Homo sapiens: one gene and its partner. The protein of the gene in region 2 interacts with the protein of the main gene of each other region in a pairwise test. Each region holds a gene or a part of one and is shown on either strand. Other genes may lie near its edges.

Region 1 (8,005 bases), on a different chromosome or scaffold from region 2:
AGAGAAGAGAGGGGGCGCTAACAGAGAACAGGCAGTAGATGGGGCCTGGGAGAGTGAAAAGGAAATGAGAAGGGAGTAGATGAGAAGGGAGAGTGGAAAGGAAATGAGTTGAGTCTCTGCTGGTGCGCAGACCGGAAGAATCTGGACAATAGAATTCACGTCAGGGGTGGAAATATAAATTTGGGAGTCACCAGCACACAGGTTATAAAAGAGGTCATGCAGTTGATTAACTGACCGAGGTGCATAGTTGAAAAACAAGGAGTTCAGAGAAATCCTTTGGGAAAACACCCAGGTGCACCTCCACTCAGGGATCAGAGGAGACTTGGGAAAAGAAGGTGGGAGGGTCTCTGGAGAAGCAAGCGGAGCTTAAGGAAGGGAGAAAAAAATATGCAGCTAAAGGGTGAGACAGGTGTCTCAGCAAAAGAGCAAACGTGGAAGAATGGGTCAGACTGTGTTAAAATTTAAAAAGGAACAGGCCGGGCGCGGTGGCTCACACCTGTAATCCCAGCACTGGGAGACCGAGGCAGGCAGATCACAAGGTCAAGAGTTCAAGACCAGCCTGGCCACTATGGTGAAACCCCATCTCTACTAAAACCACAAAAATTAGCTGGGCATGGTGGCGGGCGCCTGTAGTCCCAGCTACTCAGGAGGCTGAGGCAGAAGAATCACTTGAACCCGGGAGGCGGAGGTTGCAGTGAGCCAAGATCATGCCACTGCACTCCAGCCTGGGTGACAGAGAAAGACTCTGTCTCAAAAAAGATAATAATAAATTTAAAAATAAATAAAATAAAAAGGAGCAAAGTAAAAAAGTTAGTAAGTGCAGGTCAGGCACAATGGCTCACATCTGTAATTCCAACACTTTGGGAGGCCGAGGTGGGCGGATTACCTGAGCTCAGGAGTTCGAGACCAGCCTGGCCAACATGGCAAACGAAACCCCATCTCTACCAAAAATACAAAATTAGCCAGGTATGGTGGTGTGTGCCTGTAATCTCAGCTACTGCGGACTGCGGGGGGTTGGGGGGGGTGGGGCGGAGGCAGGAGGATCGCTTGACCCTGGGAGACAGAGGTTGCAGTGAGCCAAGATCATGCCACTGTACTCCATTCTGGGCGGCAGAGCAAGACTCTCTAAAAAACAAAACAAAAAACTGAAGTTAGTAAAAGCAGAAAAGTAAAAAGAGGGAAACAGGCAAGACACATGGTGGCTCACACTTATAATACCAGCACTTTGGAAAGCCAAGGCAGAAGGATTGCTTGAGGCCAGGAGTTCGAGACCAGCCTGAGAAACATAATGAGACTCCGGCTGTATAAAAAATAAAAAATTGGCCAGGCATGGTGGCACGTGCCTGTAGTCCCAGCTGCTCAGGAGGCTGAGGGCAGGAGGATCGCTTGAGTTGGAGGTTACAGTGAGCTGTGATCAGATCACTGTACTTCATCCTGGGCAAGAGAACAAGACCCTGTGAGAAAAGAGAAAGAAGAGAAGAGAAGGAGAGGAGAAAAACGGAACCAGAAGAAAAAGGAGAGCCAGGTGGACCTGCAGATGGGGACATCGGGGCCACATGGGGCCACAGCCATCTACACTGACAGAAGATGATGACCATGAGGTATAAAAGGGGGTAGAAAGATGGGGACGTGGGGGGTGGAGTAAAGCGTGAGCAAATAGAGGCCATCCTTGAGGATCTGTCTACTATGTGCTAAGCACCTCACTCAGTCTCCCAACAATGTGGAAGGCAGGCATTACACCCATTTCATAGCCTGCTTTCAATAGGGTTTTTTTTTGTTGTTGTTGTTGTTTTTGAGACGGAATCTCGCTCTGTCACCCAGGCTGGAGTGCAGTGGCCTGATCTTGGCTCACCGCAACCTCCGCCTCCCAGGTTCAAGGAATTCTCCTGCCTCAGCCTCCCGAGTAGCTGGGATTACAAGCATGCGCCACCACGCCCAGCTAATTTTGTATTTTAGTAGAGATGGGGTTTCTCCATGTTGGTCAAGCTGGTCTCGAACTCCCAACTTCAGGCCTCAGGTGTTCCACCTGCCTCAGCCTCCCAAGGCTGGGATTACAGGCATGAGCCACCGCGCCTGGCCTCAGTAGGGTTTTTATGTTTTAGAAGAGGCCAAAGTCTCCAAGGCTCATTCAAAACAATACACACAGACCGGGATCCAGAAGAGAATCGGCCTGAAGCTCCCTGGAGCTCCCTGGAGGGTTCCACCCCCCTTGCTCCAGCTCACCCAGAGTTCTACGATTCAAAACAGCTGGAAATGTGTGCCCTGCTCTCCCCAACAAGAAAACAGAACAGAACATGGCTGTTTCTGCCAAGCGAATTCTGAATAAGCTGCATTCCATTTCATTAAAACAATTACCTGAGCTCCAGCCAAGAATTACATAAAGCTTCCTCCCAGCATCACCCCCTCCCCCATAAAACACACATCATGCTGCTTTCAAATAGGCAGAGTGAAGCTCTGAGCCCTCGCTAGAAGACCTCATAGTCCTCGCCAAGTGGCCAGCCTCGGCATCTCTGCACGCTGACATAGATGACATGAGGCTGAAAGAAGACCTTGGCATGAAGCCCTCCCCTCATGAGAGCCTGCTGGCTGCCCGAAATGTTTCTAGTAGGCACCAGGGCCCTCACCTCTGCCTCAGAGCCAAGAGGGCCACTGGTGCCAGAATCCAGCTATTTCCCCAAAACAGACTGGAGGTCCAAGAGGGCCAGCTTTGAGTCAGCACAAACTAGACAGGAGGGACCAAGGGAGTGGGGATTCCAGGAGGGGGAGCCTGAAGGCTGGAAAACTGGATGGTCAGACTTGAGCTATAAGCAAAAGCCTGGGGACACTCAGCCATCACTGCCCACAGGTTAATGGTGTTCCACTGGCCACAGATAAGGGGTTCATGATGTGAGGCAAAAGACATCTCCTCCCCGCCCACAGGCCTCAAGCTGCCCAGAGACCGTTCCCTGAATTATGTAAAGCCTTGCTGTGGCTGGGCACCGTGGCTCACACCTGTAATCCCAGCACTTTGGGAGGCCAAGGCGGGCGGATCACCTGAGGTCAGGAGTTCGAGACCAGGCTGGCCAACATGGTGAAACCCCATCTCTACTAAAATTACAAAAATTAGTCAGGCGTGATGACGCACGCCCATAATCCTAGCTACTGCGGAGGCTGAGGCACAAGAATCACTTGAACCTGGGAGGCAGAGGTTGCAGTGAGCCAAGATCACACCATTGCACTCCAGCCTGGGTGACAGAGTAAGACTCCGTCTCAAAAAAAAAAAAAAAAGTCTTGCTCTGCATCCCATCAGCCTAGACAACCCATCTCAAACTCCAACCAGAGTTCGGCATCTCACATGCTTCAACCCTGGTCTGATTAATGTCATCATGCTCAAATAACTCATGAGGCTGCCTCCACACCTATGGACACACACTGTCTCTGGGCCTGTCTTTTTTCTGCACAGGTCACAGCACTGTGCTCCCCATTTCCCAGATGATAGTCAGCAGTCACTGTCACCTGAGGCCCCCCCAGCTACTGTCTCTGCTCACCCAGTCTTCCCACCACCTGCTCAATCACAGGAGACCAGCAGTCATTCAGGCCAACCATAGGCAGGCGCAGGCCAGCACCTAGGCCCAACAACTCCAAGCCCATCATGGAAAAGCAGGGTTTCCTTACTTTTCTCCAACTTTTCATTATAAAAATGTCTAAGCACACAGAGAAGTTGAGAGGCCCGGGTACTCTCACTTAGATTGAATGGCTGTCATTGTTTTACCACTTTGTGTAAACGCATGGCCCTTGTGCTCTCTGCCCTTTATGTGTATATCCTTTTTTTCATTATATCATTTAAAACTAAGTTGAGCTGGGTGCAGTGGCTCACACCTGTAATCTCAGCACTTTGGGAGGCCGAGGTGGGTGGATCACCTGAGGTCGGGAGTTTGAGACCAGCCTGACCAGCCTGACCAACATGGAGAAACCTGGTTTCTACTAAAAATAAAAAAATTAGCCAGGCGTGGTGGTGCATGCCTGTAATCCCAGCTACTCGGGAGACTGAGGCAGCAGAATCGCTTGAACCCAGGAGGCAGAGGTTGTAGTGAGCTGAGATGGTGCCACTGCACTCCAGCCTGGGCAACAAGAGCAAAACTCTGCCTCAAAACAAACAAACAAAAAAAAACAAATAAAACTAAGTTGAGGCCAGGTGGGGTAGCTCACACCTGTAATCCCAGCACTTTGGGAGGCTGAGGCAGGTGGATCACCTGAGGTCAGGAGTTGAAGACCAGCCTAAACAATATGGTGAAACCCCACCTCTACTAAAAATACAAAAATTAGCCGGGTGTGGTGGCATGCACCCATAGTCCCAGCTACTCAGGAGGCTGAGACAGGAGAATTGCTTAAGCCCAGGAGGCGGAGGTTGCAGTGAGCCAAGATCGCGCTGCTGCACTCCAGCCTGGGTGACAGGGCAAGACTCTGCCTCAAAAATAAAAAATGAAAAAATAAAAATAAGTTGCAAGACATCATGACACTTCACTCCTAAATACTTTAGCATGCACCTAACAATAACAATATTCTCCCATAAAACCACAATACCACAATCACACAAGAAATAAGCATTAAAAGTCCGTCTTTAAGGGAAGATTTGGCCACTGGGGTTCCACTGGGCCTGGCCAACCGCATGTTCTGTCTACCACTGGCCCAGCATCCAAGGCCTCCCTGGAGAGGCCAGCCCTGAGCACCACTGGTTAGGCAATCGGTTAGTTAGTTGGAAGACTTATCAGGGTATGAATGTACACTCAAGGCCAGATATGAGACTCCCAACAAGACCCAGACTGCAAAAGGCAGAGTGGACCCCGTGAGGCTGTCGATGGAGTCTCAGGGCCCATCCCAGGTGAGGAGGGCACCCTGAAGCCATTTCCATGACTTGCTTTGTGAACATTTCTGAGAAAACTCAGCTTCCTGATTCTCTCTTCCTCTCCCCCTCCCATAGGACATCCTTCATTCTCCACCATAAAGTTTTCAACAACTCCCTCCTCTGGATACGGGAAAGACAAGGAGCATGTTCGGGTGCAGCGGGGCTGGGGGCACAGGAAGGCTTCTGATTCCTGAGCAGAGGAGGTGGCAAGGGACCACAGGGGACCTGCCCCAGGTTCTCCTTGGCAGTGGTGCTGTAAGCTCACTGCTCTGTCTCAAGAGTAACAGGTGACTGGAGAGGTGACCAGGGAGGGAGGATTGGGGCCTCCCCTGGAACAGGAGACACTCCCCCCAGGACCCTGCATCCCATCCTGAGTGTGTGTCCCCAAGAAAGAACAAAAAGGCCGGGTGCAGTGGCTCACGCCTGTAATGCCAACACTTTGGGAGGCCGAGGCGGGTGGATCACCTGAAGTCGGGAGTTCGAGACCAGCCTGACCAACATGGAGAAACTCCGTCTCTACTAAAAATACAAAATTAGCTGGGCATGGTGGCTCATGCCCCCAGCTACTTGGGGGACTGAGGCAGGAGAATCGCTTGAACCTGGGAGGTGGAGGTTGTGGTGAGCCGAGATCATGCCATTGCCCTCCAGCCTGGGCAATAAGAGTGAAACTCAGGAAAAAAAAAAAAAAGAACAAAAGACAGACAAGAAGCTGCAGAGAACAGGGAAATGACAGATGTGGAAGACAACAGAGAATAGGGTGGGTGCAGAAAAATGTTAGTGTCCTAGAAACAGAAAACAGTCAAACCAATGGGCAACCCATATCAGATGCAGTATTATGAACAGAAGTGTAAAGAATGCACCAGGCACAATGGCTCATGCCTGTAATCCCAGCATTTTGGGAGGTTGATGCAGGCACATTGCTTGAGGCCAGGTGTTCAAGAACAGCCTGGGAAACATGGTGAAACCCTGTCTCCACAAAAAATTTCAAAAATTAGCGGGGCGTTACGGCATATGCCTGTAGTCCTAGCTACTCGGGAGGCTGAGGGAAGAGGAACACTTGGGCCTGGGAGGCAGAGGCTGCAGACCCTGTCTCCAAAAAAAAGTGTACAAAACAGTTGGCTGCAAGTCCCGCTCAGCAGCCAGACCACCTGGATTCAAATCCTAGCACTGCCATTCACTAGTTGTAGAACTTGGGCAAGTGGGCTCACCTCTCTGTGTCTCAGTTTCCTCACTTATAAAACAGGTAGTAGTAATACGACTACTAATAAAACCTGCCTCATATGGCCAGCTTGATTCAAGCAAACAATGCATGTAAAGTGCCCAGCACAGTGCCTGCACATAATAAGAGCTCAATAAATATTATGAGAAAAAGTTCTGTAAACACTGTAAAAAAGAAAAGTACCCCCTAGGCCAGAGTGCAGTGATGCGATCTCGGCTTACTGCAATCTCTGCCTCCCGGGTTCAAGCGATTCTCCTGCCTCAGCCTCCTGAGTAGCTGAGACTACAGGCACGCGCCACCACGCCCAGCTAATTTTTGTATTTTTAGTAGAGATTGGGTTTCACCACATTGGCCAGGCTGGTCTTGAACTCCTGACCTCAAAAGATGCACCCACTTCAGCCTCCCAAAGTGCTGGGATTACAGGTGTGAGCCACCATGCCCGGCAGATTTTGTTATTATTAATGAAGGCACTGAGACTAGGATGATCCCCGGAAAGGCTGCAATGAGGCTGGAAGTTTATTCAACATCTCTGGAGCGAGGTAAAGACGCAAGAGAAGCTTCAGAGTCAGATACTCCAAGCAGGATGACTAAATAGGAGAGGAGGGCTGCTCAGTGGCCCACCAATAACTCTGGCCTTCCATCAGCCTCTCCAGCCAAGGGTACACCCAGTCTCTTCAATGCATGACCATCACTAGGGAAGCTGGAAAAAAGGAATACTGAGATATTCCCTCAAAAGACCTTGAACCTATAGTGACAGGGCTTTGGGTTCCAGTAGGCTGAGCATTTCTCCATCAAGCTATGTCTGCCCAGGCAGCAGACAGCTTCACATATCAGAAAGTGTACCCGCTGAAGAATCAAACCCACCAAGGTTTGAATCCCAGCTCTGCCCCTTACTAGCACAAGCCCAGGAGAAGGTCTGGCACTGATGCAGAGCCCACCAGGAGGGCACTATCGCTGCATGGGTAAATGCCGCCTCTGCCACACGCCCAGCAGCTGGGTGCCCTGACTCTGCCCTAACACACAGAGGGACCACAGACAGGAAAGCCCAAAGTCCAGACTTTCCATGGAAACAGGGAGGCTCCATAGCTCCCAATGCCCCAGGCAACTCCTCTGCCCCCCTAGCACTACCCCCAAGGACAATGAGGCACTGTTTTCCAAAGGGTCAAGACTGCTGAGAAGCTGAAAGAAGACATGTCCAGATTCCAGCAGCAACTGGGCACTGCCAACAGCTGGCTGTTCCCCCTGCTAGAGGATGGGAAGGCAAAGCTACCCAGTCTTGCACTGGACACACCCTTTGCCATTTCCTGGGATGGGCCCCTAGGGCAGAGATTGTTAAAGGTAACTATCAATTACTCAGCAGGCCCCAAGGCTCATCCCCCTGGTTAGTCACCAGCACCTACCACCTTATGATGATTAAGATAACCGGATCTGGAATTGGATGAGCCTGGGTTCAAATCCCAGCACTACCACTAAACTTCCCTGAGCTCAGGTTTCCACATGTATAAAGTGGAGCGAAAACACCTCCCTTTCTGAAAGGTTGTGATACAGCTCGTAAAGTGCTGAGTACAGTGCCTGTCTCCCATGAAGCGCACATGATCATGATTAGACCACAGTTGTGGTCAAAGCCCCCACCAAGTACACTGAGAACATGAACAGAGGAAGAGCAAGCAATCGGGTTAGAAAACACAGTCAGAGTGCATCTCAGTGTTGTGGGAACTCTGTCCAGGAAACTCCGGCCAGAACTTGAACAGAGCGAACTCTGGGCCAAACCAGCATCTAAACAGTAATAAGAAAAGCCACCAAGCAGCCACCCCAAAGAACAAAGTGGAGAGAACACACAGGGAAGGGCAGAACACGCTGTGTTGATATTTTTCTGCTCAGAGAGCTATAAATTTGTAACT
Region 2 (8,005 bases):
TACATTTGTAGCTGCATTGAACACTTTGGAGGAGGTTTCTTGGCATCACACATGCTGAACACATTATTGAACTTGGCATTAATTGAGGGTAGCTCTGAGGCACTTCCATGTGTTCTTAGATGCCTGAGCTGGTGGTTACTTGCATGCAAATGTCATAACTCAGTTCGTTCATGGATCACCAGTGTTCTAATCCTTTCCCCATATGGATCTTCTAGATGAGGGTTTGAATCCAGTCAGTTAGGAGAATCAATTGATAATCCGCTGATAAACTCAAGAATATCAGTGGTGAGATTGGTCTATTTAAAAAAAACATATATCTCCAAAATTATTTATAACTTTTGGCTGGGCCACTGGGCCAGGCGCAGTGGCTCACTCCTGTAATCCCAGCATTTTGGGAGGCCAAGGTGAGAGGACTGCTTGAGGCCAGGAGTTTGAGACCAGCCTTGGCAATATAGTGAGACCCCATCGCTACAAAAAAAGTTTTTTTTAATTAGCTGGCCATGGTGGCACACACCTATACTCTCAGCTACTTGGGGGCTGGTTAGGGAGGTGAGGTGGGAGGATCACTTGAGCCCGGGAGTTTGGGGCTGCAGTGAGCCATGATCATGCCACTGTACTCCAGCCTGGGCAACAAAGAGACACCCTGTCTCAAAAAAAAAAAAAAAAGTCCAAGAGATGAATTAAATTCATGATTAGATGCTGACCTAATCACTTCACTACCTGTATAAATTCTTTACTCACCTCCTCTTTTTTTTTCTCTTTAAAGAAGTGATTAAAGCTCTTTATATTGTGGTTACCATAGACCCAACCTCCCCATCTACTTTTTTCTCATGGCTGAAAACTAAGATAAGCAAAAGTCATTACAGTTATCATGGGATGGTTGCCCCAAGGATGATCCAAGTTTCTTTGGTTATTTCGGCAACCAGGACCTCAGTTTCTTTTTCTTCACAGTGGCATACTGTGCAAATTTTACCAACGCTGAACTGGTATTTGTCAATACTTGACTTTGCAGGAAGCTAGAGCTCTCTAGTTATTTATAATCTGTTTGTGTTTTGTCGTTGCTTAGAACTAACTACTCTTAAAGGGATTAGATATTTTTCTTTCTCCAGTTAAAAATATTTTGAACATTCAAAATATGTAAAACAGAATTTAAACATTGGGATGTGATGCTTGTCATTGAAGGTTCTATGTTATTGTACATCAATAAAGATGAACTTTAGGCTTTTTTTCTGGCATAAAGAGTGATTTGTTCAAGTTTTTATATGCCTTGGTTCTATGTTTAACAAACTTCTATAAAAAATTCAAATCTTAATTTTGATTAACGATGTTGTAGAAGTTCAAGGAAAGAAGTCATCCACTGTCTCTACACTAAAGCTTTCGGAAGGCCAGCGCCTGAGCAGTTTGACCTTTGGGTGCTTTTTATCTCGAGCAAGGAGTCCTCCTCAAGTAGTAAAATCTGAGGAAATGAGCAAGATATCATCGAAAGAACCTGAGTTCACTGAAGGAAAAGACATGGAAGGTATTTATGAACTACAGGAATTGACTTTGGCATTTTTTAAAAAGGAAGACTCATTTGCTAAGATTAATCCAAATATAGCTTAATTTTCCTTATTTTTTTCTGACAATTTGATGTTTTATGAGAATGTTTCTAAAGAGCAATACAACATTTAACTTTGTGTGTCTAATTATTTTGTGTTTTCTGAGAGCCTTTGCATAGGAGAAACTGATTTTTCCTTCGTAATATATTTTTCCTGCTGTAGGTGGAAGGTGGGTATTTAAAATTAAAAAGTTTACTGTCCCATCTGCAAGATGCTGTACTTGTTTTAGCTGAGTTTCAGATTAGAACTGTGAATTTCCTATTCATTATTTATTTAAAATATAAAACATTACTTAATATTACACATAAAACATTATTTAAAATATAAAACATTACTTAATATTACACATGAAATTAAACATTGGCATAGCAAACTTCTAAAGAAAAAAACCCTAGGGGATAAATTGATAACTCTTTGATTTTCCTTTAATCCTTCCAAGAGGAAAATGTTTTCCTAGATATTTAAACCCTGGTCCTGTATACAGATTTCTACTCTTCTTCTTTTAGTCTTGAAGTGCTTCTATCAAAAAAAAAGAAAAAATCCATCTAAATTTTGCTTTGTTGTAGCTGTTGGCTTTGCCACCTCTAGCACAATCACTTTTGTTGACTTTCCCCAAATATTTTAGAGAGGCCTGAGTTTTCATCCTCTCTACTTTCAGCTCCAACTTCCTTCCCCCAGAAGAGAAAAAGTATAACAGTAAAAGTTGTCTCTATGCTTGGTTATGAAATTCTGAAAATGATACATTTTCCAATCCGAAGGCTCCTTTGCTCCTTGCTTTCATGCCATTACTCGCTTTGCTCTTCTCTTCTCTCTCTCTTTTTTTTTTTTTTGAGACAGGATCTCACTCTGTCTCCCAGGCCGGAGTGCAGTGGCACGATCACAGCTCACTGCGGCCTTGACCTCCCAGACTCAAGTGATCCTCCCACCTCAGCATCCCTAGTAGCCAGGACTATAGACACATGCCACCATGCCTAGTTAATTTTTGTATTTTTTGTAGAGATGGGGTTTCACCATGTTGCTCAGGCTGGCCTTGAGCTCCTGGGCTCAAGCAATCTGCCAGCCTTGGCCTCCCAAAAGTGCTGGATTTACCGGTGTGAGCCACTGCACCCGGCCTACTTGCATCTTTTTTTTGCCTTTTGAGAAGCCATTTTCATTTCCTTCCCTTTTTCTAATAGTGGAGTACAGCTGAGATTGCTTGTACTGATGCTCTTGCTCATTTGCAAATTTAACAAACTTCCTAATACCGAATTTTAGAGTTTATTTGTTCAGCCTCTAGTTCCTTAATTATGAAGGTCCTGTCTATGTTTTCATGTTTTCAAAGTTTCTTTTCTACACTTCAGTCTAAAAGTTTAATTCCTTGTTTATGAAGCCAATGGTTCATTCTGTTAATTATGTTATACATAAAAATAAACCATATCTAAAGATATTTTTAAAGAGTGTTATTCTTATTATAAAAACACATTTTGTAGTTATGATTAAACCAAAAGTAGAGCAAGGAAAGCTTTTCTGTGTTTATATTTTCTTCATGATTTTGCATATCTCAATGTATCGAAGTTTGGTGCAAGGTCTGTTTATTAAACTATAGCTTTGTATTTATTATGCTTAAATTTACTTCATTATAATCTAAATATTTAGTTGAAAGGAGGTGTCATTTTCTTTCCTTCTAAAATAGAATTCATGCTGTTCATTTTTTTGGTGACTGCTTTCTTTGATAGTGAAAGTTGCCCTGTTTCACATTTTGCTTCTTTTATTATCTCTCTTTAGACTCTCAGTTTTTTTTTTCCCAACATGTTTTTTTGTAAAAACCAATTTGGAAACTATTATATTGACATGTTAGGGCTCTGAGTTTTATATAAAGCTTATAGTTTTCAAAAACTTGTGTTTAAAAAAGACATAAGACTAACACAGGATAATGTAAATTATTTGTATGAAATTTTTGGTTTATTCCTTTAAAAAAAATAGAGGCAGGGTCTTGCTCTGTCACCCAGGCTGGAGTGCAGTGGCTGATCATAGCTCACTGCAGACTTCAGCTCCTGGGCTCAAGCAATCATCCTGCCTCAGCCTCCCAAGTAGCTGGGACTACAGGTACACACCACTGCACCCAGCAAATTTCTACAGTGTCAATTTCTACAGTGTAGCTACATAAAGCTAAATGTACAGAAAGATTATATTCTTAAAGGCAGCATGCTGATATGATGTATCCTTTTCTAGAAATGGAAATTCCAGAAAAGTCTGTTGATAACCAAGTTCTAGAAAACAACAGAGGCCAGAGAACATTGCATCAAACCCCTTGTGGCTCAGAACAGAATCGGAAAACAAGAACAAGCTTTGCCACAGATGGTGGCATCTCCCAGAATTCTGGGGCTCCTGTGAGTGACTGGAGCTCTGATGAGGAAGACGGGAGCAAAGGAAGATCCAAGTCCAGATGCACATCCACCCTCTCCAGTCACACATCTGAGGAAGGGGTCCAGTGTAGCAGGATGGGAAGTGAAATGTATCTGACAGCATCTGATGACAGCAGCTCTATATTTGAGGAAGAGACTTTTGGCATAAAGAGACCAGAACACAAGAAGCTATATTCTTGGCAGCAGGAGGCACAGTGGAAAGCTCTAAATAGTCCTCTTGGAAAGGGAAATTCTGAATTAAGTAAAAAGGAACAAGATAGTTCCTCGGATGAACTGAATAAAAAATTTCAATCCCAGAGACTCGATTATTCATCTTCATCGAGTGAAGCCAACACCCCAAGCCCTATTTTGACCCCAGCTTTAATGCCAAAGCATCCTAACTCACTCTCTGGAAAAGGAACACAATTAGTGCCTTCATCACACCTGCCACCCCCAAAGTTAAGGATTCCTAATGTTTTCAGTATAAGTGTAGCACTAGCCAAAAGGCACTTAAGCCAGCCACAGTTAAGCTCTGACAGGATGTTTGGTACAAATAGAAACGCTATAAGCATGATACGACCACTGAGACCTCAGGAAACTGATCTTGATCTAGTTGATGGAGACAGTACAGAAGTTTTAGAGAATATGGACACGAGTTGTGATGATGGATTATTTTCCTATGACTCCTTGGACTCTCCAAATTCAGATGACCAGGAACACTGTGACTCAGCAAAGAAGGTGGCATACAGCAAACCTCCAACTCCTCCCCTGCACCGTTTTCCTTCTTGGGTAATTATATCACCGCATGTAACACATACGCAGTAGTTTTTTTCTCAACACTTTTTTTTTCTGGGAGGGAGTCTCGCTCTGTCGCCCAAGCTGGAGTGCAGTGGCGCGATCTTGGCTCACTGCAACCTCCATCTCCCGGGTTCAAGTGATTCTCCTGCCTCAGCCTCCTGAGTAGCTGATACAGGCATGCACTACCATGCCTGGCTAATTTTTGTATTTTTGGTAGAGACGGGGTTTCGCCATGTTGGCCAGGCTGGTCTTGAACTCCTGACCTCAAGTGATCCACCTGCCTTTGCCTCCCAAAGTGTCCACACTCATTTTCAAGTTTTACTTTTTCTTTTCTTCTTTCCTTTCAAATCCAGCTTTGTTCTGACGTTTTCCAGTTTTTAGGATAAAATTTCTTCTTCTCTTCCCTCACTGAGTTCTGAATCAATTGAGAAATAAGATAATGACAAGACAGATGGGAGATCAAGGTATTACCTTATTTACTGATAAAACTAATTTTAGAGAATTAGTGGGCAAATGAGCTTTCTAATACTGAACTTTGAGATTAGCTGGATTGAGTCACCTGTTCCCAGGAAGCCCTGGACCACCACAGGATTCTGCTACTGAAGCCATGCCCCTCTAAAACTTACTACCTCAAAAAACAGAACAGATGGTTGTTTCCTGCAGGCAGCTACTTCTCAAGAGAAAGGGGAGAGGAAGTTGCCAGGCTCTGCATGCCCAGTTTCTCCTTCTCAGCTTACCAATCACATTAAGCCACTCTTCCTCTTGGGGAGGGGAAAGTGAATAGGTGGAGAGGGATCAGCAGTGTTCAATTACTGGAGGTTCCTCCATGTGGAAGGAAACATTGGAGGTGGGAAAGAAGGGTTCCCCCTAACTGTGATATTTTGGGTGAATTCTGAACCGGGACACTTAACTCTTGTTAGTTATAAGTTTTTGAACTTAGTCGTTATTTGATTGGCTTTAAGATAAATTTAATTTTCTTTTTGAGCTTATATAGCCATTGGTTTCCAAAGTATCTTTCTACAGACCTAGAATAGATAAAATCTTCTTCCATTGAAACATTGACCATTAGTAGGATAACACTGCTAGACTAAAAAAAAAAAAAAATTCTTCCAATATTTGAAATAAAATGAAATGATCTGTTTAATTTTAATTTTTTTTTTTTTTTTTGAGATGAAGTTTCACTCTTGTCTCCCGGGCTAGAGTGCAATGGCGCCATCTCAGCTCACTGCAACCTCTGCCACCTGGGTTCAGGCAATTCTCCTGCCTTAGCCTCCCAAGTAGCTGGAACTACAGACGTTTACCACCACACCTGGCTAATTTTTTGTATTTTTAGTAGAGGTGGGGTTTCACCATGTTGGCCAGGCTGGTCTTGAATGCCTGACTTCAGGTGATCCACCCACCTCAGCCTCCCAAAGTGCTGGGATTACAGGCGTGTCACGCCACTGCACCTGGTCTGAAATGATCTGTTATAGATTTAAGTTTTTCTTCACATGCTGGCATAATTTAACCTTTGGCCTCCAGAGAAACATCTGGGTTGCAGGACTCTTTTGGTTTTTGGAGTCATGTTCTTTTATTACTATATTTTTTATTTTGTGACTGATGCAGTTTTAAGCAAATTAGGGTGGACATGTTTTTCTAATATAAATTCAGAACTTAAGATGTATGTGCTCTTATTTGCTTTCAAGAGGACATTTTATTTCAATATCCACATGAAACCTTCTGTAGTTTATTACTAAATTTTGGATAGCACAGGAAAGTGGAAGTTAATGGCATGTGAATCTCTGGAATTCTAATTATGTTATACTTTAGGCAGCAAGAAATTGAAATTTTGCCTATCTTATGATGTTGAGATTTTCAGAGATTTAGGTTAGGCTTTTAAGTTCGTTTTATTTGGCAACCCATTCTACTACTTTTTTTTTTTTTTTTTTTTTTCCATTCTGTCTTCTCTTACTCTTTTGAAGCTATTCGGTCCTGAAAAAGTAGTATTGCTTTTCAAAAGCCTTCCAGCAGACTGGCCAAGTCTGAGATTTTATTTCTGTGTTTATTAGGTATTTTCAGGTTTCAAGGAAAAGAGATGTATTCTAATTGCCTCAATAAATATGAGTTTATTTTAAAAATTTCTAAGAGCTTATTTTAAGGCATAGCCTATCCTTATTGAACTGGAATACCATGCAAATTACAATAGTCACTCTAGAGGGACAACATGTGATAGTCAGCAGTACCTCCGATAGAAACAAGTGACATCCATTGCCCCTGCTCCCAGTGGCTCAGCTTGTCCTCCCAGGCCTCCAGTCCCCTCTCTCTAATTCTACTACTAACCACTTTCCCCCAGTCTCCTAGGGCTTCAGACTGCCTCCCGTCTCCTGCTTACTGCCCTTATTGTTATATGTCTTTCTGTTGCTGTTTGTGTGTGGGTGTATCTCACACTCAAAGAAACTACATCTGATTCACTCAGCCAGGCACTATTCAATCGAAAATGTCCCTGATAGTCGGAGAACTCATGCCAGTTGCCTCTCAAGCCACTGGCTGTCTTGAAGAGGATGGCCTTAGTTGCCCACTGTGTCCTGGACAGTCAACTGTGTCCAAGTTAGACCCATTATTAAATTCAGGACATGTTGCTCTATGCATTAGGAACCACCTGTGGTCCCTTTTCTCAAGGGAGCAGGGCTAGTAACCTGTCCAGTACCTGTTTCAGAGATTTTTCAGAAGAGAAGAGAAAACAAAATAATCTACTTTTGGAACAAGATAATATAAATTCCATTGCAATTCTCATATTCATTTCTTGTTTGACTTTAGGTATCTCTTCTACTTGAGTGAAATGTACATTGACATAGGAAGGCGATAGCATTTAATGCTACTGTATCTATGACTTCTGACTTCAGGTTTTTCCATTCTTTGTTTAACCATGTTCCAGAATAGTAGAATATTAAAAGTGGTGTTTATGTGTAATCAATGATTGAGAATGGTTTCTAGCTTAATGTTATAGCCACTCATGGTTTTTCTCCCCACCGCCAACCATATTCTAGAATGGTAAGAATATTAAAGGTGGTGTTTATGTGTAGTCAGTGATTGTGAAAAAGCTTTCTCTTACTTTTTCTTCACGTCTTCAAAATAATTTATCAAACAAAAATGTGGGAAAAAGATAAATAATGGAAAAACTAACAGATGGAGAAAAATCTCAACAGTACTATTCACAATGGCATATTTTAGTTGGCACCGATGATG

What was found.
Region 1: the proteins of PLEKHH2 (region 2) and PXN interact in binary tests that used the Homo sapiens proteins (3 or more experiments, as listed by UniProt).

The regions. Positions count from the first base shown.
Region 1 is NC_000012.12:120,254,942-120,262,946, forward strand, and holds part of PXN (paxillin), read right to left. Parts: intron 1-8,005. UniProt on the Homo sapiens protein: Cytoskeletal protein involved in actin-membrane attachment at sites of cell adhesion to the extracellular matrix (focal adhesion). Recruits other proteins such as TRIM15 to focal adhesion.
Region 2 is NC_000002.12:43,695,838-43,703,842, forward strand, and holds part of PLEKHH2 (pleckstrin homology domain-containing family H member 2), read left to right. Parts: intron 1-1,333; coding exon 1,334-1,519; intron 1,520-3,809; coding exon 3,810-4,771; intron 4,772-5,172; exon of another isoform or gene 5,173-5,244; intron 5,245-8,005. UniProt on the Homo sapiens protein: In the kidney glomerulus may play a role in linking podocyte foot processes to the glomerular basement membrane. May be involved in stabilization of F-actin by attenuating its depolymerization. Can recruit TGFB1I1 from focal adhesions to podocyte lamellipodia.